Linked DNA regions of Homo sapiens: all the other regions are reported to be linked to region 1. The links are microRNA targets in miRTarBase. Many come from high-throughput screens and were not tested one by one. Region 1 holds a microRNA gene; each other region holds the end of a gene's coding sequence.
The links. Region 1 holds the annotated microRNA hsa-miR-186-5p (CAAAGAAUUCUCCUUUUGGGCU, at 4,279-4,300, shown strand). A microRNA usually pairs through its seed, bases 2 to 8, with sites in the 3' UTR of a target mRNA and lowers its output. Matches are read on the target gene's strand: a 7mer-m8 pairs with bases 2 to 8, a 7mer-A1 pairs with bases 2 to 7 and ends in A, and an 8mer does both.

Region 1 (6,340 bases):
CTGCCAAGTACTATTTGTACTTGGAACACTACTGTTCTGGAGATACAGTGGTGACCGAAACAGAACCAGTTTTCTCTTACACAGTTCTAGAGGAGGAAATATATAAATAGGTAATTTTGATAGCAGTAACGTTATGAAGACACATGATGTGATAACAGTTTAAAAGCAACTTTGGTTTTGCCGATGGATAATGTCTAAGGAGGTGAAGTTTGAGCTGAAACTTGAATGATAGGAAGGAGCCAGCAATAAGAGCCGAGGTGAGAGCACATTTAGGCAGAGAACAGCAAATACGGGTTCCCTAAATAGGAGATAAGCCAGCAGCCTTCAAAAATACCATACATAGGCCAGTATAGTTAGAGCAGAGGGGAGAATGAGATGAGGGGGACAGCACACATTTCAGGTCTGGTGATACTTGTTCTGTCAGGCCAGAGTGTAAGTTTTATGCCATGTTAAGGGTACCTTAGAGCCTGATCATAAGAGGTCTTGGAATGCAACTAAAGAAATAATAAGCCAGTTTTGAAGTTTTTAAGAAAAAAGTGAGATGTGTTTATCTGTCCTGTGTTTCAGAGTGATGACTGTCAGTATATTGAGATACTAGAGAGGCAGAATGGATCTTCAGATTTGAGGAGACCAGCTAAGAGGTTACTATAATATGCTAGAGAATAAGGAACAGAGTGTCTAAGACTAAAAATGGTGATTTCAAGGACTTTTAAGGAGGTGGACTTGAAAATTCTTGGGTGATGCATAAGTGTGACAGAAAAAGTGTGTATGGCCTCCAGGTTTATGTCTGTGCAATACCTGAGACAAAGTTGTCAAGTCTCTATTTGAGATGAGTTTAGTAGGTGAATTTTAGAATTCAGAATTAATTTGCTGAGATACCTGTGATATATGCATATGGAGGTGCTCAGTACACCTAACTGTTTTATCTTTCCTGGTAGGTAACACTAATATCTAAATGTCTAATTATAATTGAATTTTTGTTAGGATGAGGATGAAGATGACGCTGATCTCTCAAAATATAATCTTGATGCCAGTGAAGAAGAAGATAGTAATAAAAAGAAATCTAATAGACGAAGTCGCTCAAAGTCTCGATCTTCACATTCACGATCTTCATCACGCTCATCCTCCCCCTCAAGTTCAAGGTCTAGGTCCAGGTAAACGGGTACAGGTCAAGGGTAACACCAGTCAAAATGTCAGTATCTAACTTTTTTATTTATAAATTTTGTTTTTCTTGACGAAATAAACTTTCCTTTTTATTTTAAAAATTTAATTCAAATCAACTTTTAAAATAATTTTTCAGCTTAGTACCATACAGTTGTTGTCCAGTATTTTTAGAAAAGTAAAGTCTTAGCATGAAACTTCCTTAACCTATTTTAGCCTCATGCTTTTGACTAAAATAGACTTAAAAACTGAATTAAATTTTTATATACACTTATATTTAATTAATCTAAAGAGATAGCTTACATATAGAAATTAAGTAAAGGGGAGATCTGTATTTTCATTCAAGATGTTAAAGGCTAGCACAGAAATTTTCTAGGCATTAAATCATTGCTTATTACATAATGTTTTTAATAGTTTGCTTTGATATCAGTATTGTGAATAACGGAGCAAATTCAGCCATATTAGTTCTGTTGACTTCATGCTCATAATTTTGAGAAGTCCAGGCGTAAACTAAAACTCTTTTGGTGTACTTGAATATTGTTTGTTGATGTAAAATATGTAATCTCTGATTTTATAGTTAACAATAAAAATAAAATTTTAGGTGAGTGAAAGCAGTGATTTAAATTTAACAGTGTCCTCTTGAAAAACCTTAATCACAGTTAAGTGATGGCATGGGCAATGAATTTTAATCATATTTAGGAATAAAATACTAGATATTAGTGTATAACAATTAGATATATGTTAATTGAGCACTACAAAGCCTGAAAGCTTAACAAAGTGGGGCTATAACTAGTAATTTTTTGGTAAAAATATAGTGATCTTTTTCTACAGGGTATTATTATAAGGGACAAATTATAGTTGTAAATTAGATTAATGAATTTTGTGAGTTTTAAAATTTGTACGAACCATGTCTCCCTTGTGTCATATTTTCCAATAATATAATTACCTAACAATGACAGAATTATACATTTTCCCTTTAATTCTCTAAGCATTGAGTAAACAGAAAAATATAGGGATGAAATACACACATGCCAACATTCAAAACTTTGTACTAACTAGAAACAAAAATAGAAGGGGATTTATAAAGGAAAATGATGGAGACATTTTAGAGAAATTAAGTATAAATCGCAACATTCTGTTTTCTTGGATGTATTCTGGGTAGCTTCTAGTTACTTGTAAACAAAGTATTCATTGTTTTTGTAATAAAGTGATAATGTTTTGTTTTATAGTTGAGTGGCTTTAGGGTAATTTAATCACCTGGAAAGTGATATTTTTTTAATTACCTTTTGTTACTAAATCTTATCTAATTTAAAATACTATGTTTTGAAAGTATATATCTTGTATAGTTATCTTTTTATATGAAAATGAACTCTAATACATATCTTTCTTTCAGTGTTCATATCACAAAGCTCAATTAAATGGTCCTGGAAAAAAAAAATCGTTCCATGTTGTTCCAGGTCCCGTTCAAGAAGTTCTTCCAGTTCGCAGTCAAGATCTCGTTCCAGTTCCAGAGAACGTTCGAGATCTCGTGGGTCGAAATCAAGGTGAATGAGGTAGCATCTCTCTGTAAAGCAGAGAGAAAAATATTTAAAGGCTGCAGAAGGTGTTGCTGCTTTTTTTCCCCTTATTTTGCTTCTACTTGTCGATTTTATTTTAGCATTAGAAAACTAATGCACTTGCCTCAGCTTAATTTTCTCACCATGAAATGTTTCCATTGCCAGCAGTGTGCCAAGACATTCCCATGATTGAAATCAGGTGGCTATTTTGCAATATGCAGCGTTTATTATTTTGGCACTAAGATGTTATGAAGTAGGAAGATGAAGCCAAGTCTTATCGCCACATCTCTAGTATATTAAGATTATATATGGCCAGGCACAGTGATTCATGCCTATAATCCCAGCACTTTGGGAAGCTGAGGTGGGAGGATCACTTGAGGCCAGGAGTTCAAGGTTGTAGTGAACCTTGATCACAGCACTGTAATCCAGCCTGGGTGACAGAGGAGTGTCTCAAAAAAAAAAAAAATTAATAGTAGTTCAAATAAAATTACATATGTAAATAAAAAGAAAAATTTTCTTCATTATTAAAAGGAAGAAAAATAACCCTGCCTCAAAACAGGTCCTGTTTTGCACGGCAGTTGTTTCAATATTTTCAGAAACAAATTTGCCATTTATATCAGATAAAGTTACTAGAGTACTGTATATACATTTTCCTTTCTAATTTTACACACGCTATTATTTATAGAGCACAAAACACTCAAAACTAAATCAGGAAGTATAGTCGGTTAGTTGAGATAGGATGTGGTCTTAAGTAGTAAACAGTGTTCTAAAGTTTCAGGTTGCATGTAGTCACATCTGTAGAGGGAAACATAATTTGAAAGATGCTCTTGCAGGAAATTTTTCTTTGTTTAGTCAAAATATGCTCTCTTTGTTTTTAAGTTAATTTATTATGACCTAAAGGCATCTAAAAAATAAATAAGAAAATGAAATTCCATATTTGTGGAAATTCATATTGAAGTCTAACTGTGGCTGTTTTGGTAAAAGTATTTGCTGCTTTGAATCAAATTTAGCATTAAAGGGCTGCCACAGTATAATCATGTTAAGGAGAAAAGAATGTTGTGCACACTTGCATTATAAGCCAATAAGAAATAGATAACAAGGCCAGGCTCAGTGGCTCACGCCTGTAATCCCAATACCTTGGGAGGCCAAGGTGGGCGGGCTGCTTGAGCCCAGGAGTTCAAGACCAGCCTGGGCAATATAGTGAGACCTCGTCTACTAAAAATAAAAATTAAAACAACCAGCCAGGCATGGTGGTGTGTTCTTATAGGCTGAGGTGGAAGGATCACTGGAGCCCTGGAGATTAAGGGTGCAGTGAGCCATGCTTATGCTACTGCACCACAGCCTGGGGAACAGAGCAAGATCCTGTCTCAAAAAAAAAAAAAAAAATAGAAGTAGAGAGCAAATTATTTTTTATTGTTACCATTATTTAGTAACAATATTTAAGCGCTTTATAGGTAAAAATCCTTAAGTTCTGGTATTCCCTTTGGGAACCATTATAATTAAGGTTTACAGAACACCCATCATATTCTTCCCAAACATTTTTTCATTGCTTGTAACTTTCCAAAGAATTCTCCTTTTGGGCTTTCTGGTTTTATTTTAAGCCCAAAGGTGAATTTTTTGGGAAGTTTGAGCTAAATTCCTTCAACCAAAATATACAAGTGAAGAAAAAAAATTTGTATTTAAACATTTGCACATTTACTTCTACCTGAAGCATGTGAATGTCAACACTTCATATTTCATAAGTAGTGGGTTTTCATAAAAATAGTATTGTAAATATAAATCATCTTAAAGTTAGTTTTTATTTCTTCTTGAATATTTAGCAGTTAAGTACAGTTACTAGTCTTTTGTTGCTGTGCCATATACCTGGTTTTTCCATAACAGTTTAATGAGTTGAATAATTCCACATGGAATTATGTTTATTTTCCTCAGGAAGTGGTATATAAGATACATATTTTAATCCTCAAATGGAAGGATGTAGTTCCTAAACGTAAAGTCCTGTTAATGCAGTTATCTGCTGATTTTATAATACTATAATATTTGTGTATACTTTGAAAAGCCTTAAAAAAAGTTTAAATTCTATTTTGATATAGTAAGCAGGGTTTTAATTACACATGATAGAATTTTAAAGAGACAAAATTAAAATGTTTAAGTAGAATGTTTTCATGGTTGATCCAGAAGTCTTCTGTTGAATAAGCAGTAAGTATTCTTCCTTATAAAATTTTCATAGTTGTTATAAATCCTGTTTATTTTTGGAGCTATCTGATAACTAAATAATCTTCCTTATTTCTTCTTTTAATGAAATGTTTGATTTGTTTCTCAATCAATGAAGATCCAGCTCCAGGTCCCACAGGGGCTCTTCTTCCCCACGAAAAAGATCTTATTCAAGTTCATCATCTTCTCCTGAGAGGAACAGAAAGAGAAGTCGTTCTAGATCTTCTTCATCTGGTGATCGCAAAAAAAGACGAACAAGATCACGGTCACCCGAAAGGTTTGGGTTTCTGTAGAAATAAGAATGGGTGTTCTTAAGTGTGTTTAATAGATAAAGTAAACTTTCCTAGTCAAGGGTTAGATTTTTATTATCTCTTGTGTTCCGACTTTCTACTTTTCAACTTTGAACTTCAAAAAAACATTACTTTGCTTATCCTTTGTACTTTGATCAGGTTGTTTAGAATTGTAGATCAAACCATTCTTTGATCATTTTATTGTTTAAATTTTTAGTTCCATTTATAATTTTTATAGCCAACTCTCGGTTATTTCTGTCTTTTGAGATTGCAATTCAGAAGCTGTATGTCGAAGTAATTTATGAGTTGACTTTTATACTTAGGCTTCTTTAAATACTAATAGTCAAGAATTCTAGAGCATCTAATAAAAAATTAACTTTCAGATCATTGGGAATCTGTCCTCATTTAAATATGTGTAAATGCATTTCCACAGCAAATTGCTTCATGCCCTTTGTCTATAAGGAAATTATTCCTTGTAGCTAATACATTTTTCATTTTGCAGTCCAAATCTTTTTTGAGAAAGGCCTATATTAGGTTACTTTATCTGTACTGACACTTTTAATATTGGAAGAATGCAACTGTCATCTGTCAGCCTTTTCTGCAACAGGCTAATTACTCAGTTTCATTAATTTTCTCTTTGTTCCCAATTATATAGTCATTTTAATGGCTTTATTTGTAGTCTTTGCAAATTTTTCATATTTTATTAGCTTGTGAAAATAAAGATTATGTAAAGTCTATTAATTGCTGGGTTCAGTGGTAGGATTATCTCATGATTCCTACTTGTACAGAATGATTAGTTTTGCTTCTTCACATTTTGGAGTTTAGATGTTAAGATTTCACACAGTCTTGTTTCTCTGCATTTGTTTCTTTGTAAAAAAAATTACTCTGTTTTTGAGTGGAATTCATTCTGTTGCTTTCTTACCACTTCTGCAAATTTTTATCTTAGCCACATATAATCCCCCTAGTTTGTTGTCATCTAAACTTAATGAACATGTTCTCTATTCCATAAGCCAGGTGATTGGTGAAAACACTAAACAACCCTGAGCCCAGGGCCAACCCCTACGGAACACCACTACTTTACCCAGGTTGATATTGACTTATTCATACTAGCTGCATGAATAT
Region 2 (6,340 bases), not on the chromosome of region 1:
CGAGCTTTCCCAGATACCCCACCTGGGATGACTACTAGCGTCTTCCCAGTTGCCGATGCCTGCCACAGTGTAAAAAGCCTGCAGCGACAACCGGGTGCCTCCCCATCTCAGGAGAGAAAACCCACGGGGGTGTCGGTGATCTACTGGGAGAGGCTCCTGCTAGGCTCGCGCAGTGACCAGGCCAGCATCAGCCTGCGACTGACCTCCCCACTCAGGCCCCCCAAGAGCAGCCGGCCCAGGGAAAAGACCTTCACAGAGTACCGGGTGCCTGGGAGGCAGCCCAGGACGCCTGAGCGGCAGAAGCCATGTGCACAGGAGGTCCCTGGGAGAGCCTTCGGGAATGCCTCGGACCTGAAGGCCGCCAGTGGTGGCAGGGATCGCAGAATGGGCGCAGCTTGGCAGGAGCCTCATAGACTCCTCGGTGGCCAGGAGCCCTCGACCTGGGACGAGCTGGGCGAGGCTCTTCACGCTGGGGAGAAGTCCTTCGAATGCAGGGCGTGCAGCAAAGTGTTCGTGAAGAGCTCCGACCTCCTCAAGCACCTACGCACCCACACCGGGGAGCGGCCCTACGAGTGCACCCAGTGCGGCAAGGCCTTCAGCCAGACGTCGCACTTGACGCAGCACCAGCGCATCCACAGCGGCGAGACGCCCTACGCGTGCCCCGTGTGCGGCAAGGCCTTCCGGCATAGCTCCTCGCTGGTGCGGCACCAGCGCATCCACACGGCCGAGAAGTCCTTCCGCTGCTCCGAGTGCGGCAAGGCCTTCAGCCACGGCTCCAACCTCAGCCAGCACCGCAAGATCCACGCGGGTGGGCGTCCTTATGCTTGCGCACAGTGTGGCCGCCGCTTCTGCCGCAACTCGCACCTGATCCAGCACGAGCGTACGCACACAGGCGAGAAGCCCTTCGTATGCGCGCTCTGCGGTGCTGCCTTCAGCCAGGGCTCCTCGCTCTTTTTGCACCAGCGCGTGCACACAGGCGAGAAGCCCTTCGCCTGCGCCCAGTGCGGCCGCTCCTTTAGCCGCAGCTCCAACCTCACCCAGCACCAGCTCCTGCACACGGGCGAGCGGCCCTTCCGCTGCGTGGACTGTGGCAAGGGTTTCGCCAAGGGCGCCGTGCTGCTCAGCCACCGGCGCATTCACACGGGCGAGAAGCCCTTCGTGTGCACGCAGTGTGGCCGCGCCTTCCGTGAGCGCCCTGCCCTCTTGCACCACCAGAGGATCCACACCACAGAGAAGACCAATGCCGCAGCACCAGACTGCACCCCGGGGCCAGGTTTCCTTCAGGGACATCATCGGAAGGTGCGCCGGGGAGGGAAGCCAAGCCCAGTCCTGAAGCCAGCGAAGGTCTGAGGTCACAGGTCGCAGCCCAACCCTTTCTTGGCCTTCTGTGAATCCCTTCCACAGCTAAAGGGTCCGAGTGCTCTTCAGATCCACGATGGGGAAAAGCTCTGTGCCTGAGAGTCAGGGACGAGGGAGACCCTTTGGCTGTGGTTCCATTTGCAGGTGGGGACAGGATTTGCCAGTTTAGTCATAGCTCACACCTCCATCCTCAAAGAGGTAACACTGCAGAAACATCAGAGGGAGGACATGTCAGCTGGAACTCTGGTGGGGCTGAGGCTGTAGTTGGGGCCATAGGACGCCGACAAAGGCAGCGCTGCATGGTGGTGCTACTTCATGTGTTATGAGAGTGGATGCTGAGGTGAGGGGGATGCGGACATGGGGTAGGATGACCTAGAGAAACTTATGATGTCTGCACACAAACTGGCCGCTAGACGGACGCTGAGGACATTTTCCCCCTGAGGCCTCTATTCAAGGCTTCCTGGGGGCCATCTCAGCAAACAGGAGACTACAGGGGACTGGGGATCAGGGTGTGGCCTGTGAGTGTCAGCCTCCTCCTCGGAAAAAGAAAAGCTTTGGGTCAACTCAGCATCATGTTTGCAGATGCTGACAGACGGGATCCTAATGAGAGTCAATGTGTGCTCACTGCCAGCTCCTGGGCTGTGCTCTGGTCAGCCAGGTGTGAGGGCCTGGCCTGGGGTCACACAGCTGACTCAGGAGAGGAATGCCCATGGTTCTCAGCATTGGAAGGACAAACCTAGGATGATGGCTTTCCAGTGGCACTCGTTCAGGTTTTCGTCCAAGTCTCAGCTTGGCCAAGGCCTGTCGCTCACTCATTTACAAAAGTCGATGTGAGGAGGAGCCTTTACACCTGTGGAGACAGTGATAGCTTTGGAGCAGATAAGGTGGAGCTGCTCATTTTTGCTGGATTTGGTGGCCGATCCCCGCCCCCACCCCCACCCCCTCCATCTCACCTTTCCCTTGTTATGCCTCCTCAATTGGAGGCTGGACAGAGAGCTGAATAGGAAGGACTTGCCATTACCTAAGGCCATGTGTGACAGCCTCCTGAGGACCTCCCCAACCCAGTGTGATGGGCCTGCATGGCAGAGACAAAAGGGTAGACTGGGGGTCATTTGCTTCCTGTGGCCTTAAGCCTACTAGGCCCCATCCTTACCTGAGACCTCACCTCCAAGAAATTAATGGTCTTTTCAATGGAGAAAAAAAAAGACTAGTATTTGCAACTTCAAATAGATGTAGTTTCCTTTACAGCCGTGTGGACCTCCACAGCACAGCCTCCTGTCTCTATTCCAGGGTATGATTCAGTTGTTTGTTTGTTTTTGAGACAGAGTCTCAAGGCAACTCTTCTTGCCCAGGCTGGAGTGCAATGGCACAATCTCGGCTCACCGCAACCTCCGTCTCCCAGGTTCAAGTGATTCTCCTGCCTCAGTCTTCTGAGTAGCTGGGATTACAGGCGCCCACCACCATGCCCGGCTAATTTTGTATTTTTAGTAGAGACAGGGTTTCTCCATGTTGGTCAGGCTGGTCTCGAACTCCCAACCTCAGGTGATCTGCCCATCTTGGCCTCCCAGAGTGCTGGGATTACAGGCGTGAGCCACTGCGTTTGTTTTTCATGAAGCGTCTCAGTCTGTCGCCCAGGCTGGAGTGCAGTGGAGCAACCTCGGCTCTGCCTCTTGGGTTCAAGCCATTCTCCTGCCTCAGCCCCTCCAGTAGCTGGGATTACAGGCTTGCACCACCATACCTGGCTAATTTTTGTATTTTTAGTAGAGACGGGGTTTCACCATGTTGGCTGGGCTGGTCTCAAACTCCTGACCTCAAGTGATCGGCCCATCTTGGCCTCCCAAAGTGGTGAGATTACAGGCGTGAGCCACTGCGCCTGCCTACATACCATGATTTTAAAGTTGCAGCTGTTTCCTATTGCTTGTAACTCAGTCTTGTCTTTTCAATGGTAACCAATTTCTGTTTCAAACTGAAAGGTTCATGAGGGTGAGTTCTTCTATTAGTCTGTTTTGTGTCACTATAAAGGAACACCTAAGGCTGGGTAATTTATAAAGAAAAGAGGATTAATTGGCTCATGGTTCTGCAGGATGTACAGCCATGGCACCAGCATCTGCATGGCTTCTGGTGGGACCTCAGGAAGCTTGCAATCATGATGGAACATGAAGGAAGAGCTGGCATATCACATGGCAAGACAGGAAGCAAGGCGGGGGGGAAGTGTCACACATTTTTTTTTTTTTTTTTGAGGAGTCTCGCTCTGTTGTCCAGGCTGGAGTGCAGTGGCACGATCTCGGCTCATTGCAACCTCCGCCTCCCGGGTTCACGCCATTCTCCTGCCTCAGCCTCCCGAGTAGCTGGGACTACAGGTGCCCGCCACCACGCCCAGCTAATTTTTAATATTTTTAGTAGAGACGGGGTTTCACCGTGTTAGCCAGGATGGTCTCGATCTCCTGACCTTGTGATCCGCCCGCCTTGGCCTCACAGCAGAGTGGTGGGATTATAGGCGTGAGCCACCGCGCCCGGCCCACTTTTTTTTTTTTTTTTCTGAAATGGAGTTTTGCTCTTGTTGCCCAGGCTGGGGTGCAATGGCACGATCTCAGCTCACTGCAACCTCTGCCTCCTGGGTTCAAGTGATTCTCCTGCCTCAGCCTCCTGAGTAGCTGGGATTACAGGTGTGCACCACCATGTCAGCTAATTTTTGTATAATATTTTTAGCAGAGACAGGGTTTTGCCATGTTGGCCAGGCTAGTCTCAAATTCCTGGCCTCAAGTGATCCACCCGCCTCAGCTTCCCAAAGTGTTGGGATTACAGGTGTCAGCCACCGCACCCAGCCCATCACACACTTTTAAACAACCAAATCTTTCATGAACTCAGAGCAAGAGCTCACTTCTCACCAAGGGGGATGGTGGCAAGCTATTCATGAGGAATCTGCCCCCATACTATAGTTTGGATGTTTGTCCCCTCCAAATCTCATGTTGAAATGTAATCCTCAATGTTGGAGATGGGGCCTGGTGAGAGGTGTTTGGGTCATGGGGGTGGATCGCTCTTGAATCTCTTGGTGCTGTCCTCAAGGTAGTGAGTTCTCACAAGATTTGGTTATTTAAAAGTCTGTGGCACCTCCTTCCTTTCTCTCTTGCTCCTGCTCTCACCAGGTGAGATGCCTCCTCCCCCTTTACCTTCTGCCATGATTGTAAGCTTCTTGAGAACCTAGCAAGAAGCAGATTCTGAAGCCATGCTCGTACAGCCCTCAGAACAGTGATCCAATTAAACCTCTCTTCTTTATAAATTACACAGCCTCAGGTATTTCTTTATAGTAATGCAGGAATGGCCTAATATACCTCATGATCCAACACCTCCCACTAGGCCCCATGTCCAACACTGGAGATCACATTTCAACATGAGATTTGGAGGAGACACACATCCAAACCATATCAGTTCTCTTGTCCCTGAGTGAAGAGGCACTTGCTCCCTCTAAACCCAATTCTAGGTGACTAGAGATTTATGAAGGTGTCGGGATGTTTGTTCATGATGCATAGTGGCCTCATAGGGTCTCCCTACTTCTTCTGCAAGAAGAACACCTTCAGGGGCTTTCAGCTCAGCCAGAAGATTCACATAAAGGTTGTTCATCTGGTACCTTGAGCACTCTGCCAACACAGGTGATCACAGATTCCAAGACACATAAAAGAGTGAATCACAACTCACTGGTGACTCATTGAGGAGTGATGCTCACAAAGCAACACACTTCGTCTAAATACACTGTACTAACCTTGGTCACTTTTGAAAAGGTATTTCTACAATTATTTGAAACTGCTCATGAAAACTGAGCTTTCCCTTAAGGAGCAACCCCCCCACCCTTCGAAACCTATGGAGATCCTATTTCCAAAAACTTAGGTAAATGGACCCAGGTCACTCGAGATGACCCTAAAATGCAGTGGCCAAAACGGAGATCTTTTGAAATTCCTAAAGTAATATATTTGTGTGCACAATAGGAAACTTAATATGTTTGTTCTAAAACCAGACAAATTGGATGGGAGGCCTACTTTCTGTTTGTGCAGGCTATACTCTGATAAGATATTTGAAAGGTTTTTTAAAAAGAGCTCTATAGGCCAGGCACAGTGGCTCATGCCTGTAATTCCAGCACTTTGGGAGGCCAAGGTGGGCGGATCACCTGAGGTTGGGAGTTCGAGACCAGCCTGACCAACATGGCGAAACCCCATCTCTACTGAAAAATACAAAAATTAGCCAGGCATGGTGGTGCGTGCCTGTAGTCCCAGCTACTTGGGAGGCTGAGGCAGGAGAATCACTTGAACCTGGGAGGCGGAGGTTGCAGTGAGCTATGAAACTATAGCAAACTCCAGCCTGGGCGACAGAGTGAGACTCCGTCACAAAAGTAAGTAAATAAAATACAATGAATTCTATGGTCAGATGTCAGCTTAATTAAAAGCTGATATTCAGGCTTTTTTTTTTTTTTTAAGAAAAAATACCTTTCTGCTTTTTCTCATTTGGAGCCTGTTTCTGGGAATTTTTTTTTTTTCTGTTGACTGAAACCCCTTTTTACATATGTTTAGTCCCTTTGTTTGCTTCTTTTCTTGTTAGTATGATGTAAAGTTTTATTGGCCTTCTGAAAAACTTAAAATCTCCCCAAATTGGCTTAGAGCTCTCCCATTTTCTTCTACTTTTTCTTCCTTTAGCTATCTTTGATACCACATAAAGAAATCTAGAGGAGTCTTCTAATATCTCTGAGACCCTTTGAGGAACACAGTAAAGTGTCACATACACCTTTTATGGAGTCTTCTGTCTTCCTCATGGAATCCTAAGTGTAGCAGGCAGTTTATCTTAGGTCTAAAGCTCTGATCTCTTTTACACTGAGTTCTCTGACCTTTTGGCTTGGGGGGTACCAAGGGTTACTTTGTTCTATGAAAGAACATGATCTTTGGGTGTGCACTGGCTGGCAAGTTACTGGCAAGGGCTGCAGTTTTGGCTGATA
Region 3 (6,340 bases), not on the chromosome of region 1:
TGACTCAACAAATGGGGAGAGCAAATTGAAAATGCGTAAATTGGAAGGCAAGTTCTGAAATTAAACGTTGTACTTTGGCCTGATGTTCTGACCTTTAAGGAAGCAAGAGTTTGTAAACTTCCAAATATTTACTATTCTGAACTGCCGTGTAAACCTGACGTATTCCCAAGTCAACATACCAGTATACCAATAGGATGTGAATAATGTGTGTGTTGAGTTTAAAACCATAGCAGTTTTGCTCTGGCAAGTAATGAAAGCGTTCTCGCTTCCTGAGTGTGAGCTCCAGCAGACTGCAGAGTGGCCAGTCCACAGTTGTAGCCTGACTTCAGTGAGTTCTGATGTGTGCTTTTTGCAAATACATGTTCTCAGAACAGTGAGATCATCCAGCAGTGGCCTGGACTGCACTCACATAAAAATCATGAGACAGCCATGGCTACTTGTTTCTGTAATACATGCATGTGTGTTTTTTAAAACCTATGATAGGCCTCTGATTCTGCAGCTGCAACTTTTATGGAATGTTTTCCTTCTCCACATCTCATGTGATGCTCTTATTACAGGACACAGCATTGTTGGTTTTGCCATGTACTATTTTACCTATGACCCGTGGATTGGCAAGTTATTGTATCTTGAGGACTTCTTCGTGATGAGTGATTATAGAGGTACGATTGAGTTCGGAGCAGAGGGTCTGAAGAGAGTTCAGAGTTATAAATGCTTACAATGACTTTTTAAATTGTACTCTTTCTTTTTAGGCTTTGGCATAGGATCAGAAATTCTGAAGAATCTAAGCCAGGTATGTCTTAGTTTTTGGTTTCCAAATTTGTAAGTTTACTGGATTATTTTAATGATGGAATAAAAATTGGGTCTTGAGAGCAGGCTGAAATGTCACTGAGTGTGTGTTTTACTCTCTCATAATAGGTTGCAATGAGGTGTCGCTGCAGCAGCATGCACTTCTTGGTAGCAGAATGGAATGAACCATCCATCAACTTCTATAAAAGAAGAGGTGCTTCTGATCTGTCCAGTGAAGAGGGTTGGAGACTGTTCAAGATCGACAAGGAGTACTTGCTAAAAATGGCAACAGAGGAGTGAGGAGTGCTGCTGTAGATGACAACCTCCATTCTATTTTAGAATAAATTCCCAACTTCTCTTGCTTTCTATGCTGTTTGTAGTGAAATAATAGAATGAGCACCCATTCCAAAGCTTTATTACCAGTGGCGTTGTTGCATGTTTGAAATGAGGTCTGTTTAAAGTGGCAATCTCAGATGCAGTTTGGAGAGTCAGATCTTTCTCCTTGAATATCTTTCGATAAACAACAAGGTGGTGTGATCTTAATATATTTGAAAAAAACTTCATTCTCGTGAGTCATTTAAATGTGTACAATGTACACACTGGTACTTAGAGTTTCTGTTTGATTCTTTTTTAATAAACTACTCTTTGATTTAATTGTTTGGTGTAAGCATTTTTACTAGTTCTTTATTTCTTACACATCTTTCTTGCTGTTGAAGACAAAAATGACCCGCAAACATCATTGGATGAACAGAATTGCTCAAAATAGTTTTTAACCCAATTTAAAGTTTTTATGGTCATGTGTTATGTTAGTATTAACAAAGTCTGGATAGAAGCCAGTTTACCAGTTGGCTATCAAGGTTTTATACATAGCAACATGTAAAACATGACTTTTTTTTTTTTTTGAGACACAGTCTCATTCTGTTGCTCAGGCTGGAGCGCAGTAGTACGATCTCAGCTCACTGCAACGTCTGCCTCCCGGGTTCAAGCAATTCTCATGCCTCAGCCTCCTGAATAGCTGGGACTATAGGCATGTGCCACCGTACCCAGCTGATTTTTGTATTTTTAGTAAAGACGGGGCTTTGCCATGTTGGCCACGCTGGTCTTGAACTCCTGACCTCAAGTGATCCACCCACCTCAGCCTACCGAAGTGCTGGGATGACAAGGGTCAGCCACAGCACCCGGCAAAACGGCTTTTTATGTTGATGACACTATACACTGCATCTGATGGATTTTTTTTTTTTTTTTTTTGAGACAGTCTCGCTTTGTCACCCAGCCTGGGCAGTGTGGAGTGCAGTGGCACGATCTCGGCTCACTGCAAGCTCCTCCTCCTGGGTTCACACCATTCTCCTGCCTCAGCCTCCTGAATAGCTGGGACTACAGGCGCCCGCCACCATGCCCGGCTAATTTTTTGTATTTTTTAGTAGAGACGGGGTTTCACTGTGTTAGCCAGGATGGTCTCGATCTCTTGACCTCATAATCCGCCTGCCTCGGCCTCCCAAAGTGCTGGGATTACAGGCATGAGCCACTGCGCCTGGCCTGACGGAATTTTCAAGAGCTGAAAACCAAGTTAGAAACTGAGGCCCACAATGAATAAACCCATCATTACACAAGTAAAATGTGGAGATGGGATTATGAAACATTGAAAATCAAGAAAAAACATCTTGTCCCTAAAAACCTCATGCCACATAAGATTTTTTTTTTTAACAGAGCCAAGGTCTCATTCAATGAATAAACTCATCATTACACAAGTAAAATGTGGAGGTGGGATTATGAAACACTGAAAATCAAGAAAGAACATCTTGTCCCCCAAAACCTCATGCCACACAAGACTTTTTTTTTTTTTTTTTTTTTGAGGAAGAGTCTTGCTCTGTCACCCAGGCTGGAGTGCGGTGGCACGATCTTGGCTCACTGCAAGCTCCGCCTCCCGGGTTCACGCCATTCCCCTGCCTCAGCCTCCCGAGTAGCTGGGACTACAGGCACCCGCCACCACGCCTGGCTAATTTTTTTTTTTTTTTTTTTTTTTTTAGAGGAGACGGGGTTTCACCGTGTTAGCCAGGATGGTCTTGATCTCCTGACCTCGTGATCCGCCTGCCTCGGCCTCCCAAAGTGCTGGGATTACAGGCGTGAGCCACCGTGCCCAGCCAAGACTTTTTTTTTTTTTAATAGAGCCAAGGTCTTACTCTTTCGCCCAGGCTGCAGTGCAGTGGTGTGATCACAGCTCACTGCAGCCTTATCCTCCCGGGTTCAAGCAATTTTCCCACCTCAGCCTCCCAAAAGTAACTGGGACTACAGCTGCATGCCACCATGCCCAGCTAATTTTTTTTATTTTTAGTAGAGACAGGGTCTTGCTAAGTTGCCCAGGCTGGTCTCAGGTCCTCCTGCCTTGGCCTCCCAAAGTGTTGGGATTACAGGTGTGAGCCATGGCACCTGACCAAGATAATTTTGAAGGTAAAGCGGATCACTGAAATTAGGGTCTCCTATGTGTACTGAAAAAGTACACATTTTTTTACAGGAAATTTGCAAACAGAAAAGCTCCAGTTGGACACAAGCATAAATCAGATAAATTAACATCTCATTTGGAGGGTGAATTTGTAGTCCTGTGTTAATACAACGGATTTTTAGAGCAGAGAAACAATAGCCCTTAAAACTGCCAGGGGGTAAAGAAGTAAACAAGTGCTTTCTTAAGGACTGAAATGAAAAAGAAAAAGACCATTTCCCCCTAGATATGTGAACTCCTTTCATTATTCATGACATTGGCCCAAATTCCTAAACCGACTAATTTCCACAATAATGAAAACAGTAGTTGATAAGAACCACTGTAGACTAATGTCCAAGATAAATGTTTTCCAAAAGAAGTCAGATACCTGAAAACAATGCTCTGTATCTCTCTGAGTTCTCCAGCAAATCAGTACTGAGCTCCTCAGTCAAAGGTAATGTTGTCCTGCAAGCCTTTGTATCAGTGTCTGTTATGGCTTCCTAGATTAGAAGGCAGCCACATATAAAAATGTAGCCCTGTATTATATTTAATACAGGAGGGCTTTGGGATTTATTGGTGGCTCAGAGAGCATGCCATGAAAATGGGCTTACAGAGTCAATGATCAACCAGGGGCCCTATTAGGCAGGCAAGTAACTACATAAGAGAAACTCTGGCAAAAATGAAAGGGTAACTAAACACAAAGAGCCTTGTGGAGAAGTAAGATATTTTGCAAATTGTGTTTTGGAAAGTGAGCCTCTTAGAGGAAAACAACTACATGCTGACTGTGGTTAAATATAGGAATAAATTAAATTAACCACCAAGTTACAATATAACTCTTTGTTTCCTCATCTTTCTTAGAACTTAGCCTTAAAGGCCCAGTGTTGTGAAGATGAAGGCTTTTATGAAGTTTTGTATCCACTTTAAAGAAGCCCCTTAAGTGTAAATTTTATTTATTTTAATTTTTATTTGTTTTTAGTTGTTTTCTTTTTTTTTTTTTTCTTGAGACAGGTTCTCACTCCATTGCCCAGGCTGGAGTGCAGTGGTGCAATCACAATTTACTGCAACCTCGACCTTCTGGGCTCCAGCAATCCTCCCACCTCAGCATCCCAAGTAGCTAGACCACAGGAACGCACCACCACGCCCAGCTTTTCTTTTTTTTTTTTTTAATTTTTTGTAGAGATGAGGTCTTGCTACATCACCCAGGCTGGTCTCCAACTCCTGGCCTCAAATGATCCTCCCCCCTCAGCCTCCCAAAGAGCTGGGATTACAGGCATGAGCCTGCGCCCAGCCAGCTGTAAAATTTAGAAGCTGAAACGCCAACTGGGAGCAGTGGCTCACGCCTGTAATCCCAACACTTTGGGAGGCCAAGGCGGGCAGATCACGAGGTCAGGAGTTCGAGACCAGCATGGCCAATATAGTGAAACCCTGTCTCTACTAAAAATACAAAAAATTAGCCCGGGGTGGTGGCAGGCCCCTGTAATCCCAGCTACTCAGGAGGCTGAGGCAGGAGAATCACTTGAACCCAGGAGGTGGAGGTTGCAGTTAGCAGAGATTGCACCATTGCACTCCAGCCTGGGCAACAGTGTGAGACTCTGTCTCAAAAAAAAAAAAAAAAAGAAGAAGCTGAAACACCACAGCATTAGCCCACTACTAGCTCAACTCAATTACAAAGAGACCTCTTTAAAAACTGAACTATAAAGCAAATCTATAAAGTTTGAAGTCACCAGGCAAGTAAGAAAACATGTTACGGGGAAATTATCTGAAAAGAAACAACAAACAATGATAAACATGGAAAACCAGAGTCCAAGATCATCAACCGCTTAGATTCCACACAGTAGTCTTTCTAGGGAAAGAAAGTAGAGTCTTTTTTACAGAAATGCTGAAGAAGCAATTCAGAAGAAACCTAATGATTTATTAATGCCTTCGACCCACTCTACCCCTTCCTGTGAGTCTCCTTTCCACTGGGGACCCAGCAGGGCCTAGAATGGATGATGCTCATCACGGTTCACTGAAGCAGGTGGCTGCTCACCAGCAACTGATGGAACTGCCAGGCCCTGGGAAACCAGCCACCTTCTCCTGCTAGGAGTGAAGCAACTTCCTCACTGACTGTGACAGCCATGGCCTTCCTCTGAGTCTGCAGGTGACCATGTCTGCTCCTAGAATTCTATTTCCTTGACTGGTGCCATGTTTGTTTGTTTGTTTGTTTGTTTTGAGACAGAGTTTCGCTTTTGTTGCTCAGGCTGGAGTGCAGTGGCGCGATCTCGGCTCACGTGAACCCGGGAGGTGGAGGTTGCAGTGAGCCGCGATCACGCCACTGCATTCCAGCCTGAGCGACAGGGCAAGATTACGTCTCAAAAAAAAAAAAAAAAAAGAAAAAGAAAAAAACTAGTGATAAGAGCTAACATTTATTAAGCACTAATCAGGAACCAGGCTTTCAGTTTAGCACTTTGTATACATTATTATCTCATCTAATTCTCACAACGACTGTATGAGATTGGTACAATTATAAGTTTCTTTTTACAATGAGAAACTAAACCTAAGAGAAGTTAAGTTGCCCAAGGCCACACAACTAGACCTGGGAATCAAGCTCCAAACCAATTTCTCAAACCCCTGGGGCTTCCTGCCATAGTCTCACAGGACCTCACAGTTTCTATAAGAATGATTGAATATGGTGTTTCTGTGTGATTCTACTGCAAAGAATAATCAGTATAAGCATTTTCTGGATAATCAAAAGCAGTGATTCTCAGTATGGGCTACACATTAGAATGGCCTAGAAAGCACTGTAAAAATACTAATGCCCCATCCTGAGAGAGATTTCTTTTTTTTTTTTTTTTGAGATGGAGTCTCACTCTGTCCCCCAGGCTGGAGTGTAGTGGCGTGATCTTGGCTCACTGCAAGCTCCGCCTCCCGGGTTCACGCCATTCTCCTGCCTCAGCCTCCCGAGTAGCTGGGACTACAGGCGCCCACCACCACACCTGGCTAATTTTTTGTATTTTTAGTAGAGACGAGGTTTCACCGTGTTAGCCAGGATGGTCTTGATCTCCTGACCTCGTGATCCGCCCGTCTCGGCCTCCCAAA
Region 4 (6,320 bases), not on the chromosome of region 1:
TGGGCCTCCCAAAGTGCTGGGATTATAGGCATGAGCCACCGTGCCCAGCCCTGGGTGCCTTTTAAATCAGACTGTACTCACCCAGGAAGAGCCAGCCACAGGCCCTGCCCCAGCTGCCCACCCTGCTCCTCAGCCACGCCCCTTTCCATTGTGACGGGCAGCATGGCCACTGAGCCAGGGTGCAGTGGCAGCGGCTGTGTAGTTGGGGGTGGCGACATGAGCCGTGCGAGCTAGCCTCCCAGCTGGTCCCCGGGATCTCAGGTTACGTCGCACCCCCCGCAGTGCCGCCGGTCTGTGGGTGTCCAGATCGACCAGCAGAGGCAGATCCTGGACTTGGACCTGGGCCTGCAGTTCCTACAGCAGCAGTCCTTGGAGTTGCTGGCCAAGCTCCACTAGAAGATCGAGCATCTGAAGTGGGAGAACAAGGGTGAGCCCAGCCACAGGGCCCTAGGCCTGCCCTGCCTCCCCAAGCGCCTGAACACGGCGGCGGCCCGCAGAGCAGAAACGCAGCACATGAACTCCAGCACCTGCCTGGGCTCAGGGAGGACACAGGGCAGCAAGCCCACGCTAGGTCCTGCCATGCTGAGCTCTTCCCCTGCCCCAGGACGGAGACCCGCCTAGGCCCGGGGCGGTGCCCTCCTTGTCTGCCTGTCCCGCCGGGGGCAGCATCATTTCAAACGCTGACCCTGCCAGCCCTCCCCTCTCCAGGCAGGGTCAGGTACACATCTGTTAAAAACTTCGTAGAAGGAAAACATGCCCAGTGCCGGTGCACAACTGAGTGAATTTTCTCCAACTAAACATGCCGGATCAGGAGCAGGCATGCCCCCGGCTTCGCCTGTGCCCACACTGTCCTCGGGCTGGGCCTTCCTAACTGCACCCTTAGCAGCTCCTCACCCCCACTGCCCACCAGAGCAGAAAGAGGGCCCGCCAGGATGTGGCTCCGCTCCTCCCTCCCTGCTTCAGCAGAGGCTCCAGCGAGGGCACCAGTGCCTGCAGCCTCATCTCCCTCCCCGCTCCCTGGTGCTGCCTTACCTAGGTGCTAAGTATTCCATCACCAGGCATCTGTTATGTCAGGATCCCCCTTCCCCATGTCTTCTTGAGCCTCTCCCCAGTCCCTGATGCCCACAGGATCATGACACTGACCATGCTCATCCATGGCCAGGGGCTCCCAGAGTTCACCCCTGTACCCCTGGGGCCCAGGTCCTGCCTGGCACCATGGGCGTCTTGTAGTCAGATGGGAGGATGAGGCTGATGTGCTGGGTGGGCTCTGCCTAGGGAACAGGCAGGGTCATTCCTGCCCTCACATGCCCACAGCAAAGGTGTGGTGGAAAGCGGGACCTGTGGGGCAGGGCCCAGTCAGCCAGTGGCGAGCCAGGACTCTCGGGGTTCAGCAGGGGGTAGTGGACAGCCCAAGCTGCTTCTCTTAGAATGGCTGTGGCTTCACAAGTGATGAGAAGAGCATGCGCTTGATTTCAGATCCCCATTACAAGCTCATAATGAATGAGTCACAGGAGAAAGGTGAGACTTGGGCCCTTTCGTGCCTGATGGGAAGCTCCTGCCACCCCGGGGAGCCCCTCCAGACTGTCCTTGCCCACCTGGCTGCACTGGCCTCTGTATGCCAACCCAGTGAGGACAGGTTCTGAGGGACCTGGACAGATGCTGCTGCCCCTAGCCATGGCTGGACGATGTTATACAGCCAAGCACAGCACGTGCTGCTCTCAGGAAGCCCAAGGGCTGTGGTCAGTGCAGTGGTGATGGTGGGCACAGGGTGCTTCCCAGACCTTCCCTCCTCCAAGCAGAGCTCCTGAAATGGGAGGGGACTCTGGGACAGCCCCTACCCTGCTGGGTCTTTGCCTCAGATTGCTGCTGTGGCTGGGCCTAGGATCTCCAGCCTTGTGGCTCTGATTCCTGATACGCTGGGAGAAGGGCTCCGGGCACACCCCATCCAGGGATTCCTTCCTGCCATCTCAGCAACAACTGTGGGGATGGGGGTGGGGGGAGTAACCAGAGTCCTGCTTCCCTGCCACTTGTCCAAGGCACTTCCCCATCCCAATGGTGGCCCCCACCCAGCCCAGGATTCTGGTTGAGTTCTTGAGCTCACTCTATTACCTTTGGGGCCGGGGCTGACATCAGGAGGACATCTGACTGGTGAATGGGACCAGCCTGGGAACATCCCAGCTGGGGCATTGTCCAGGGCTCTCCCTTCTAGGGAGACACAGAGAATGGGATTGAGTGAAGGCCCTTCCCTAGCTGCGGTGGCAACTCCAGTGAGCTGTTCTGGGCAAAGTGTGGCCCTGCAGTGCTGGGGACCCTGACAGGACACGGGAAGAGGCCATGCTCTCCCTCCGGACCTGCTGCTCCATGGGTCCCAAGCCCTCCCGCTTTCTGGATGGCCCCTCAGGAAACAACCTTTCCGGGGCCTCTGCTCCCTTGGGCGCGCGGTGGGTCTGGGGCTGCCTCAGTGGAGTGTGGGTAGAGCAGGGAGGACACAGGCCTGCAGGCAGACGGAGGGCTTCTCCCTCAGGCAGGTGTGCGGGTGGCAACTTCCAGCCTGTCAACTCCACCTCGAATTAAATGGTGTCAGGTGAGCAGGCTGGTGTCCTCCATGTGCTCACAGGGGCAAGTGCCCCACAGGGACCCCAGCCTGGGTGGTCACTAGAGGTGCTGACCAGGGAGCTGAAAGTCCTCTGCTGGGCCAACCTCAAGGATTTGGGGGTGAACGGGCAGCTGAAGGGAGCCCTGTAAGCTGAAACCACCAGGAGGGGCCTAGGGTGGGGTGGGCAGGACTGGGGGCCAGTCACAGGGGCTGTCAACGCAGGGCAGCAAGGCCTCATGGCAGGCACCCCAAGCCAGCACAGCAAGCGGTCAGAAGGGGCCTCCTTGGGTGGCCTTCTAGGGGGAAGGACGTACACTGGCTGCCTGGCAGAGGCCCTGCTTGGCCCACGTCCCCCTCCACAAGCAGACAGGATACAGGAGGGATGGCACTGCCCACGGAGCCCTGGGCTCATGGCATCTTCTGCAGAGTGAGCGGGGAGTGGCTCGAGACCAGGCATCTTCCTTGGCCCCAACCCTGGCCCCTATTGTTCCTGTGATGAGCCCAGGCGTGCCATGGGCGTTGTCCTTGCAGAGGAAACCCATGCAGGCTTAGTCCCAGGCCTCGCATGCAGTTTTATTTTACCCAAAACAGAGCCAGCTTCCACTATATTGACTGTTCTAGAATGTTCACAGGCACCACCCATGGGCTTCATCCTCAGAACCTCATTTATTCCTCCTAGAACCCTCCAAGGCAGGCTTCCCTTTACAGAGGAGGCAACTGAGGCAGGGGCTTCTTGGGCACACACAGCTGATCCTGAAAGACTTGGGCAGCGGCTGTTGGTGCCTGCAGTGACTGGCCCTGTCGGGTCTGACCTGCAGCCAACTCTCAAGGAAAGGACAGGCCCCAGCCGGTTCCTTCAAGAAACAAGACTCTAAAGCACTGGGGTACTCTAAGGTACCCCAGAAGGCAGACCTTGAGGAGGAGCCACTGCTTCACAACAGCAAGCTGGACAAAGTTCCTGGGGTGCAAGGGCAGTCCAAGTAAGGTTTGCCTGCACCCTAAGGGCCCCAGGACCACATTTACTAGGCTCCCACACTGCAGTCAGCAAACTGCTGTGTCCCTTGCTCTAGGATCCTGTCTCCAGGGCTCATGAAAGCAGACAATGGCCACGCTCTGTCCACACTCTGTCCATTGGGTGGGCGCTGTCTTCCTCCCCTCCCCTGGAGTCCTGCAGATTACCTGTGCTGACCTGAGCCCACAAGAGGGGGCAGCAACAGCCCCTAAACCACTTTCTCAGAGAAAAGAAAACAAAGTAATCTTTTTACCAAGAAAAGTGAGTTGTGTTCCTGGGCCTGATTAGAATGGAGCTGGTCAGTGCCTGCTGCCCCTGGCCACAGCCTGCCTTTGGAGGGGACTAGGAGAGCAGGACCAGGCTCTGGTACTCCCCGAGTTGCCGGGCTGCCCTGAGACATTGCAGAGTGCACATTTTGAGCGGTGCAACCAGCAGGACAGGCTCCTGCATCTCTGCACGTCCCCTGAGACCAGCCCTGAAGCAAGAAGCCCCACTGGGTATAGGGTCCTGACTAAGGGCAGCCTGGCAGCTAGCTGGTCACCCACTGAAGCACATCTGACCCTCAGGGCACCTTCAGAGGGGAGGAAGGGACAGACCCCAGTCCGAGACCCCCATCTGGCACCCAGAGCACTCTGGTCAGTGGGAGAAGGGAGCCAGGCCCTGTTCCCCACACTGGCCTGGGCACTGCCTGGGGGAAGTATGCTGCCTGGATGCTCAGACCCACCTGGGCAGGTCATTTCTGGCTACTGTAATGACTTTCAGAGACAGGGAAGCAGAGGCCTCTAACGCCAGGGCTTTCTGTTGGGTGGGCAGCCAGCACAGGGACAGGCAGATGATGGCACTCCCCGATGATCCTGTCCCCACACCTGCGAAAGCCCACCACACTTCAGCAGTGTAAGTGGTCATCCACCAGCTGTGGAATACCAACCTTCTGCAGGCCCAAGAGGTGAGGCCCTGGGTGGTGGGGATGGCCCTGGGCAGCCTGGTGCCACCGCAGGCCCCACCACACCCCTGCCCCTGCCTTTCAGCTGCAGCACCTCAAGTCCCTCCTGGAAGGGAGGCAGAGGCCCCAGGCAGCCCCAAGGCTGACAGCATCCTGACAGGACAGCGAGCCCAGATTCATGGAGAAGGGGACACAGTGATGAACAACTGACAAACACAGGAATAATAAATTTATTATAATCACAGATGGTGGGGTAGTGCACATAAAAAGGGGGGACCTCTTCTCACCAGAGGGTGCTGGCCGGTGCCCAGAGTGGCAGGCAACATAGGGAGGCGCTCCCTGCATGGCCCGGCCCGCTGCCAGGCCCGCTGTCTCTGGGTGCTCAGTGTGTGGTGCTCTGAGGACACGGGTCCTGAGGGCCTTGCTCTTCATCCTTCACAGTGGGGACACGGCCCTCATGCCAGCGGCACAGGGGTGCCGGCAGCAGGATCCCTGACGCCCCTGCTCCCTGGGTGCCCCACGGTGCTCAGCAGGAATGCCGTGAGGGCTGAGGCCCAGCTGGTGGCGGGGAGCCAGCAGCACCTATGGGCCAGCCCTCCCTCCAAAAGGCAGCCTGTGCCCTGGACTTGCAGGCTTCCTCGGGGGGTGCTCCACCTGCCCAAAGCAGCATAGCCTGAACCCAAAACTGTGACCAGAGAATCCCATGTGTGTTTTAAGGGTTTCCTATGTCCTCTGTGTTCTATAGGAACGAGTAGGGGTGCGTCTAGCACACACGAGACGCTCTAACAACACCCTGAGTGCACCCTCACGCTGCTGAGATGGACCTGGACCGTGGACAGGCCACGGTGAGAGCAGCCTGAGGATCGCATCTGGCTCCTGGGAGGAAGTCACATGGAGGGCCTTCTCTAAGAAGTCGGCCAACGCCCCCCAAGCAACCCGCTCCACTGCGCCTATCCCAGTTCTGTACAGGTGTGGGATTTCGTTTGGCAGGTCCCCAAGGCAGAAGATAAAAGCAGGAAAGCTAACCTAACCCCAGGCTCTCTAAGGAAGCCAACACCTAGAAGTGTCTGACAGGAGGCGTGTGTCCTTGGCCCCGATGAGGCTGCGGGCCATCCCTGCAGTCTTGGCTAGGCGGCTGAGAGGCAGGCCTGGTGGACGCTCTGGGCCCAGGTGTTGAGCAAGGCGGTGACCGAGTGCTTGTCCGGGAGCTGCAGCAGCCTGGAGGTCATGCAGCGGTGCACCGACTGGAGGAAGGGGTTGGCGTCTGCAACAGAGCAGTGGGCGTGAACCTAAGGCGGCCGGCGCTGCGCTCGCTCCTGGCACACCCGGCAGTGCTCTGGGAAGGGGTAGCCCCAGGCGCGGGCCGAAGCACCAGGAGGTGATGTGTCCTGCACGCTGCCCGGCCTTTGGGCTCTCCTCCCAGAGCCTCATCGTCAGTGAGAACCAAATCTGAACAGGATCTAGGGCTCTGCCTCTAACAACCTTGGGGACCCAGCCTGGCTCTACTGTGTGCCAGCTCTGCTGTGTGCCAGCTCTGCTGTGTGCCAGCTCTGGGCTCAGAGACTGCCCCCTGCCACCGTGGTTCTCTCTGGAGCCACAGCACCCAGATTGGGCCCTGTGTGCCCAAGCTACCAGTGGAACCTGGCAGCCCTGCCAAGGTAGTGGCCTCTGGGAAGCTAGTGGCCTCTGGGAAGAGCGGGGACTGTCCCTGAGCCATGGGCTTACTCACCCCTCACCCACTGAACACAACCACCCTGGACAGCTGACGT
Region 5 (6,170 bases), not on the chromosome of region 1:
TCCGCGCTGACTTCGGGTCCCCGGAGCCTGGGGCACGGCAGGGAGAAGACGACGGCGGAGAAGGCGACAGCGGAGAAGGAAGGCAGGCTGCAGGGGCGCCGTCGGCGCGGCGGGCCGGGATGCGGACGCCGGTGGTGATGACGCTGGGCATGGTGTTGGCGCCCTGCGGGCTCCTGCTCAACCTGACCGGCACCCTGGCGCCCGGCTGGCGGCTGGTGAAGGGCTTCCTGAACCAGCCAGTGGACGTGGAGTTGTACCAGGGCCTGTGGGACATGTGTCGCGAGCAGAGCAGCCGCGAGCGCGAGTGCGGCCAGACGGACCAGTGGGGCTACTTCGAGGCCCAGCCCGTGCTGGTGGCGCGGGCACTCATGGTCACCTCGCTGGCCGCCACGGTCCTGGGGCTTCTGCTGGCGTCGCTGGGCGTGCGCTGCTGGCAGGACGAGCCCAACTTCGTGCTGGCAGGGCTCTCGGGCGTCGTGCTCTTCGTCGCTGGCCTCCTCGGCCTCATCCCGGTGTCCTGGTACAACCACTTCTTGGGGGACCGCGACGTGCTGCCCGCCCCGGCCAGCCCGGTCACGGTGCAGGTCAGCTACAGCCTGGTCCTGGGCTACCTGGGCAGCTGCCTCCTGCTGCTGGGCGGCTTCTCGCTGGCGCTCAGCTTCGCGCCCTGGTGCGACGAGCGTTGTCGCCGCCGCCGCAAGGGACCCTCCGCCGGGCCTCGCCGCAGCAGCGTCAGCACCATCCAAGTGGAGTGGCCCGAGCCCGACCTGGCGCCCGCCATCAAGTACTACAGCGACGGCCAGCACCGACCGCCGCCTGCCCAGCACCGCAAGCCCAAGCCCAAGCCCAAGGTCGGCTTCCCCATGCCGCGGCCGCGGCCCAAGGCCTACACCAACTCGGTGGACGTCCTCGACGGGGAGGGGTGGGAGTCCCAGGACGCTCCCTCGTGCAGCACCCACCCCTGCGACAGCTCGCTGCCCTGCGACTCCGACCTCTAGACGCTTGTAGAGCCTGGGGGGCGCCGGGTGGCAAAGGACTCACCCCCGCACAGGCCCGCCTGGCTTCGAGTTGGAACCCGGACACTTGCCCCTCACTGGTGTGGATGGAAATCTGCCTTTCGTGGGACCAAACAGGACTCCTTGGACGATTAGTTCAGGTTGGGTTTGGTTTTCTTCTTAAAGAGTTTAGTTTTCCTCTCCAGAGGGATCAGGGTCCTCTTAGGGAGTGACGGGCTTTTCATATATTTTTGCTGAAGAATATATGGAAAGGGTGGCATTTGCGTCACGTGGACCAGGGACAGTGCTGAAATCAGCAGTGCTCAGAAACAATTTAACATGTTGAAACGACAATATTCTAAAATACTGATGAATCTTGCATCAATATAATTATTGGGTTTTTTTTCTTTTTCCTGCTGTATAACTCCTTGCCATGCAAACTCTCAAGAGGCCAATATATTCCTGGCCATGTTTGAATGAGCCTCTTAAAATAAACTTAGAGCCATGCAAATGCCAGCAGCTTAATGGATTTCATGGAATGAAATACCGTGATTAACTCATAGCTACATATCATTGCATAAATGGGATTTATCTTTTTTCTCACTTATTTTTGCGGTGAAAGTCGAGGGCATGCAAGAGTTTCTCTTCCAGAAGCCAAGAGGAGAACAAAGGTCCTAATGCTGTACTATTCCACCCTTTGGACGCCTCATCCAGGACGCAGAGGACTCTAGGTTTAACATTTTGTACAAAATGGAACCTGTTAATCATATTAAAGCACATATGTATATATCTTTTATTTATAAATAAAATTTTAAAACAATAGTTTCAGTATAGCCACAAAAGCTCTTTTGTCTTCAGTACAACGTTTGGGAGTTTAAACATTCATTACTAACAATTTCCTGGCTGCCTCGGCACTTGTGTCTGAAATCTAGCACTCAAATCTTTGCACCTCTTAGCATAAGGTTACTAAAAAAAGCCAACGGGCCCCACTTAAGTCCCTGATTGCTTTGGTTTTAGGTTCATGCCATTTCTGTGCAAAGCCAAGTCTATTGCTGAGAAAACGAGAAGCACCAGTTTCCACTTGAGGTGAGACTGGAAATCTTTTCCTTTGTAGCAGTGGTGTTTAGAATCACAGGAAGGCAGCTATGTGTTCCATGAAGGGGACTGGGTCTCCAGCAGGGCTGGCTTCAATTCCAAGTGGTTGATTTAAGGGTACCTTTAACCGAACTGAATCTCTTCTTTAAAACCTGCCGTTCAGAGGTAGGAACATTCATTCAGTTCAGCAAGCACTGATAATAGCTATAGTGAGGCTAACTTAATAGCACATGCTGCCTGTTAGAGTGGAAGGGATGACAGAGATTCACTTCCCTTGCCATTTGGTACTGGAATCACTTCTTTCTCTCTTTCTGAAGCCAGGCTTTAACGTGTAGGCGGTATCACTTTGGAATCTCTTTCAAATGCAGATTCTGATTCAGTAGATCTGGAGTGAGGCCCTGAAAAGATTTCCTAACTGGCTTCCAGGAGATGCCAATGCTGCCGGCTCATGGACCACACTTGGAGTTGCAAGGCTTTCGCTGGGACTGTCTCACTCAAATTTCAATCCCAACTGGTGGCTCATATTCAGACCTTTGAGTGCCTGCTACCGAGATGCGCTTGGGGACTTGCTCGAGGGTACAGAGCCAAAAGGGAGAAAGTGCAACAGGGCTCTTTTCCACTAACACCTCCGAAGGCAGCAATTAGGGACCTGAGAAGTCAGCACCTAGCAGACACCGTACAGGTACTGGGCTCCTGGCAAATGGTGAGTCTGGGCTGCATCATAATTCTATCTCCAGGGAAGCTTTGGTAAAAACACACAAAACTTTTGTGTGTTTTGCTTTTCTCCCCATCCCAATGATTCTCCACTGCCTTATATGCAAAACATTTCCTGCCTGAGGATTAGGATTCGGTTGCTGGGAGTTAAAACTCTACTTTTCCCCTATCAAGAGAACGAAGCCAAAACTCCTCCTTTAAAAATACAAACTCCTTTTTGCTATAGAAATATTCAAGACAGCCTGTAATCCCAGTGCTTTGGGAGGCCAAGTGGAAGGAATGCTTTGAGGCCAGGAGTTCGAGACCAGCCTGGGCAACATAGCTAGACCCCATGTCTACAAAAAAATTTTTAAAAGTTAGTCAGGCATAGTGGCAACATGTCTAGAGTCCTAGCTACTTAGGAGGCTGAGGCAGCAGGATCACTTGAGCCCAGGAGTTCAAGGCAGTAGTGAACTAAAAGCACATCACTGCATTCCAGCCTGGGCAACAGAGCGAGACTGTCTCTTAAATTAAAAAAAAAAAAAAAAAAAAAAAAAAAAAAAAACGGGCATGATGGCTCATGCCTGTAACCCCAGCACTTTGGGAGGCCGAGGTGGGCCCATCACGAGGTCAGGAAATCGAGACCATCCTGGCTAACATGGTGAAACCCCGTCTCTACTAAAAATACAAAAAATTAGCCGGGCATGGTGGCGTGCGCCTGTAGTCCCAGCTACTCGGGAGGCTGAGGCAGGAGAATGGCGTGAACCCGGGAGGCGGAGCTTGCAGTGAACCGAGATGGTGCCACTGCACTCCAGCCTGGGTGACAGAGCGAGACTCTGTCTCAAAGAAAAAAAAAAAAAAAAGGTTCAGGAGAGCATGGAAAGAGAGTCCTGCATCAGTCTGGGATCCACGTTTGCCCTGCGGGTCATTCTCTGCCACAGCAAGTCTCAGGAGTTGCTGCTGTGGGCAAGAATTTATCCTAAACTTTTCCTAAACTTACCACTGACCAGCCCAGCAACTGCACCACAGAGAACACACTCAAAGCACTTCTGTCTTGTATCAAGCCCTCTGACCTACCAGACTCATGTTTAATCCTCCCAATCCCCAAAGGAAGTATAAGTCCCCATTGAATGGATGAAGTCTTTTCTAGATTACTCAAGTGATGCCAGGAGGACGGTGAGTTCTGTGAAGGTAAGGCAGAAACTGCTTTAACACATCCCTGCTCTACCCGTTCGCCAATCTGGCTCTTATCTGGACACACGCCCTCACCAAGGAGGGGTGTGGCTTTGAGCACACAGCTGGTTCTCCACCGTGGAGGCTGCGGGAGGTGCTGTCAGGGTGCTTTGGCAACCATCCTTCCCTTCATTGTGTAGATCGTTCACCCAGTATGTTTTTGAGCGTCTGACATTTTGCCAGCACATTTGTGGGCACCATGAAAAACAATACCATCCAGGCCCATTCTGTGTGGAACTTAAATAATCTCCTGTGATCATGTACAAATAAAATGAAAAAGATTAAGCCAGAAATCAAGGGATGGAGGAAGAAAGGTGTTTTTTGTTTTTGTTTTGTTTTTGGGAGACAGGGTCTCACTCTGTCACCCAGGCTAAAGTGCAGTGACATGATCAGGGCTCACTGCAGCCTCAACCTCCCAACCTCAGTGGATCCTCCAGCCTCAGCCTTCCAAGTAGCTGGGACCACAGATATGCATCACATCACCCAGCTAATTTTTTTTTTTTTTAAACAGACAGAATCTCACTATGTCACCCAGGCTGGTCTCGAACTCCTGAGCTCAAGTGATCCTCTCACCTTGGCCTCCCAAAGTGCTGGAATTAGAGGTGAAAGCTCCCACACCTGGCCAAAGGTGATATTTTAGGAAAAGTGGTCAAGAAGAAGGAGGTACTTGGGCAGAGAACTGAAAGAAGAGAGAGAGGAGCCTTTTAGGCAGAAGGAACAACTTCAAGTTTCCACTAGAGAAAATGTGAAAACAGGTGGGCGTCTCAGTCTTACTACCAGCTAGTTTTGCTTCTCTTTCTAGAATCGGGTGGTAAGGCCAAGAAGCAGCTGGTGGTACAACGGAGTAACCCTGAGTCAACCTTGTCATCTACTCTTTGCCAGGCTAACAGATTCTTTCAGAGGGAATACCATCTGGAACAAATTCACCCTGTCTTCTAGAATATTTCCATAAGCAGACAGGGAGGGTCTCTGGGGATTCTAGGAATTTAATCAACTTGAGCAATCAGCCTGTTTTGCAGCCTCGTGCCCTGCAGTCTGTTTCTTCCTAGACCCTGCGTGGTCACCCAGCAGGTTAAAGCAGCTCCTGACAGGCCCCAACAACTTTTAGATGAATTCGGTGAACTTTCCTCATGGCCATTCTATAGTCTCCACCCCAGGGGAAGAGCAGCTTCAGCAGCAACCACATGCGACCTATGTGCTGGCATGAGGACTCACTGCATTGGTGCCACTGGGACCCCTCCTCGGCATGCGACGCAGTCCCTCCTGTCTCCATTACCCCTTAAAACCCTCCTGTCACATTCCCTCTGGGAGACACTGCTTTGGAGAATAATCCCAGTGCCCCTCTTCCTTGTGCCAAGTAATAAAACTCCTATTGATCACACACCTGCGTTCTCAAGGAGCGTGGTTTGTTATTCATCGGACCAACAAACCCTGATTTTGGGGGGGTAACATTTCCAGAATCAAAAATAAGCAATTTCTTTTTTTTTTTTTTTTTTTTTTTGACAGGGTCTCCCTCTGTCACCCAGGCTGGAGTGTAGTGGCATGATCTTGGCTCACTGCAGCTTTAATCTCCCAGGTTCAAGCGATTCTCCCACCTCAGCCTCCCAAGTAGCTGGGACCACAAGCACACACCACCACGCCTGGCTAATTTTTTGCATTTTTTGTAGAGAGTGTGTTTCTCCATGTTGCCCAGACTGGTCTCGAACTCCTGAGCTCAGGAGATCCACCTGCCTCAGCCTCCCAAAATGCTGGGATTACAGGCGTGAGCCACCATGTAAGCAAAAAATAAGCAACTTCATGTGTGAATAGTCCTCCACTAAGCAGGACTGAACACATGAAAATGAGGTTTCATTTGTTCAAATCAAGGAAAATATAGACAGAGCTTAGCAGGGGGGACAGTGCTGACAAGGGGACTTGATTCTTCAGTGGCACATGGAGAGAATGGCTTAAGACTTGATTGAACCCATTTAACTCTTGTCCTACTGGTGGCCCAAGTTATACCAAGGCGCTGACAAGGTGAGCCAGCAGCCCCTCTTGTAAAGCAATGTGACCAATAAGCTGGGTTGAGAGCCTGGGAAGCCAGGAGATGCCTTTCACAGGTACCAAATGACTCTCCATTGTTTTGCATAGAGAAAGTGACATGGAGCCTGAGGC

Region 2: miRTarBase lists ZNF324B as a target of hsa-miR-186-5p. The part of its 3' UTR that is shown has no 7-base or 8-base seed match.
Region 3: the mRNA of SAT1 is a reported target of hsa-miR-186-5p. Seed matches in the 3' UTR shown: 7mer-m8 at 1,409-1,415.
Region 4: the mRNA of MED15 is a reported target of hsa-miR-186-5p. The part of its 3' UTR that is shown has no 7-base or 8-base seed match.
Region 5: the mRNA of CLDN23 is a reported target of hsa-miR-186-5p. The part of its 3' UTR that is shown has no 7-base or 8-base seed match.

Annotation. Positions count from the first base shown.
Region 1 is chr1:71,065,641-71,071,980 of GRCh38, reverse strand. MIR186 (microRNA 186) reads left to right here and starts at 4,265; the gene lies at 4,265-4,350. It overlaps ZRANB2 (zinc finger RANBP2-type containing 2), which reads left to right. Exons shown (of 10, transcript NM_203350.3): 7 at 985-1,154; 8 at 2,619-2,705; 9 at 5,047-5,205. ZRANB2-AS1 (ZRANB2 antisense RNA 1) reads right to left here. Exons shown (of 3, transcript NR_038420.1): 3 at 4,797-5,215. RefSeq lists a silencer at 3,429-3,478.
Region 2 is chr19:58,455,230-58,461,569 of GRCh38, forward strand. It overlaps ZNF324B (zinc finger protein 324B), which reads left to right. Exons shown (of 4, transcript NM_207395.3): 4 at 1-2,604. The coding sequence ends at 1,350. Among named protein-coding and RNA genes, the nearest start is that of ZNF324B, 6.8 kb to the left of the region's middle.
Region 3 is chrX:23,784,771-23,791,110 of GRCh38, forward strand. SAT1 (spermidine/spermine N1-acetyltransferase 1) reads left to right here. Exons shown (of 6, transcript NM_002970.4): 4 at 558-659; 5 at 750-790; 6 at 916-1,440. The coding sequence ends at 1,086. Among named protein-coding and RNA genes, the nearest start is that of SAT1, 4.8 kb to the left of the region's middle.
Region 4 is chr22:20,586,063-20,592,382 of GRCh38, reverse strand. It overlaps MED15 (mediator complex subunit 15), which reads right to left. Exons shown (of 18, transcript NM_001003891.3): 18 at 4,764-5,815. The coding sequence ends at 5,679. LOC124905084 (a long non-coding RNA gene) reads left to right here and starts at 3,489. Exons shown (of 3, transcript XR_007068013.1): 1 at 3,489-3,576; 2 at 4,422-4,554; 3 at 4,637-4,795. It also overlaps the pseudogene CCDC74BP1.
Region 5 is chr8:8,702,280-8,708,449 of GRCh38, forward strand. It overlaps CLDN23 (claudin 23), which reads left to right. Exons shown (of 1, transcript NM_194284.3): 1 at 1-1,817. The coding sequence starts at 120. The coding sequence ends at 998. Among named protein-coding and RNA genes, the nearest start is that of CLDN23, 3.4 kb to the left of the region's middle. RefSeq lists a silencer at 1-10 and an enhancer at 1-451.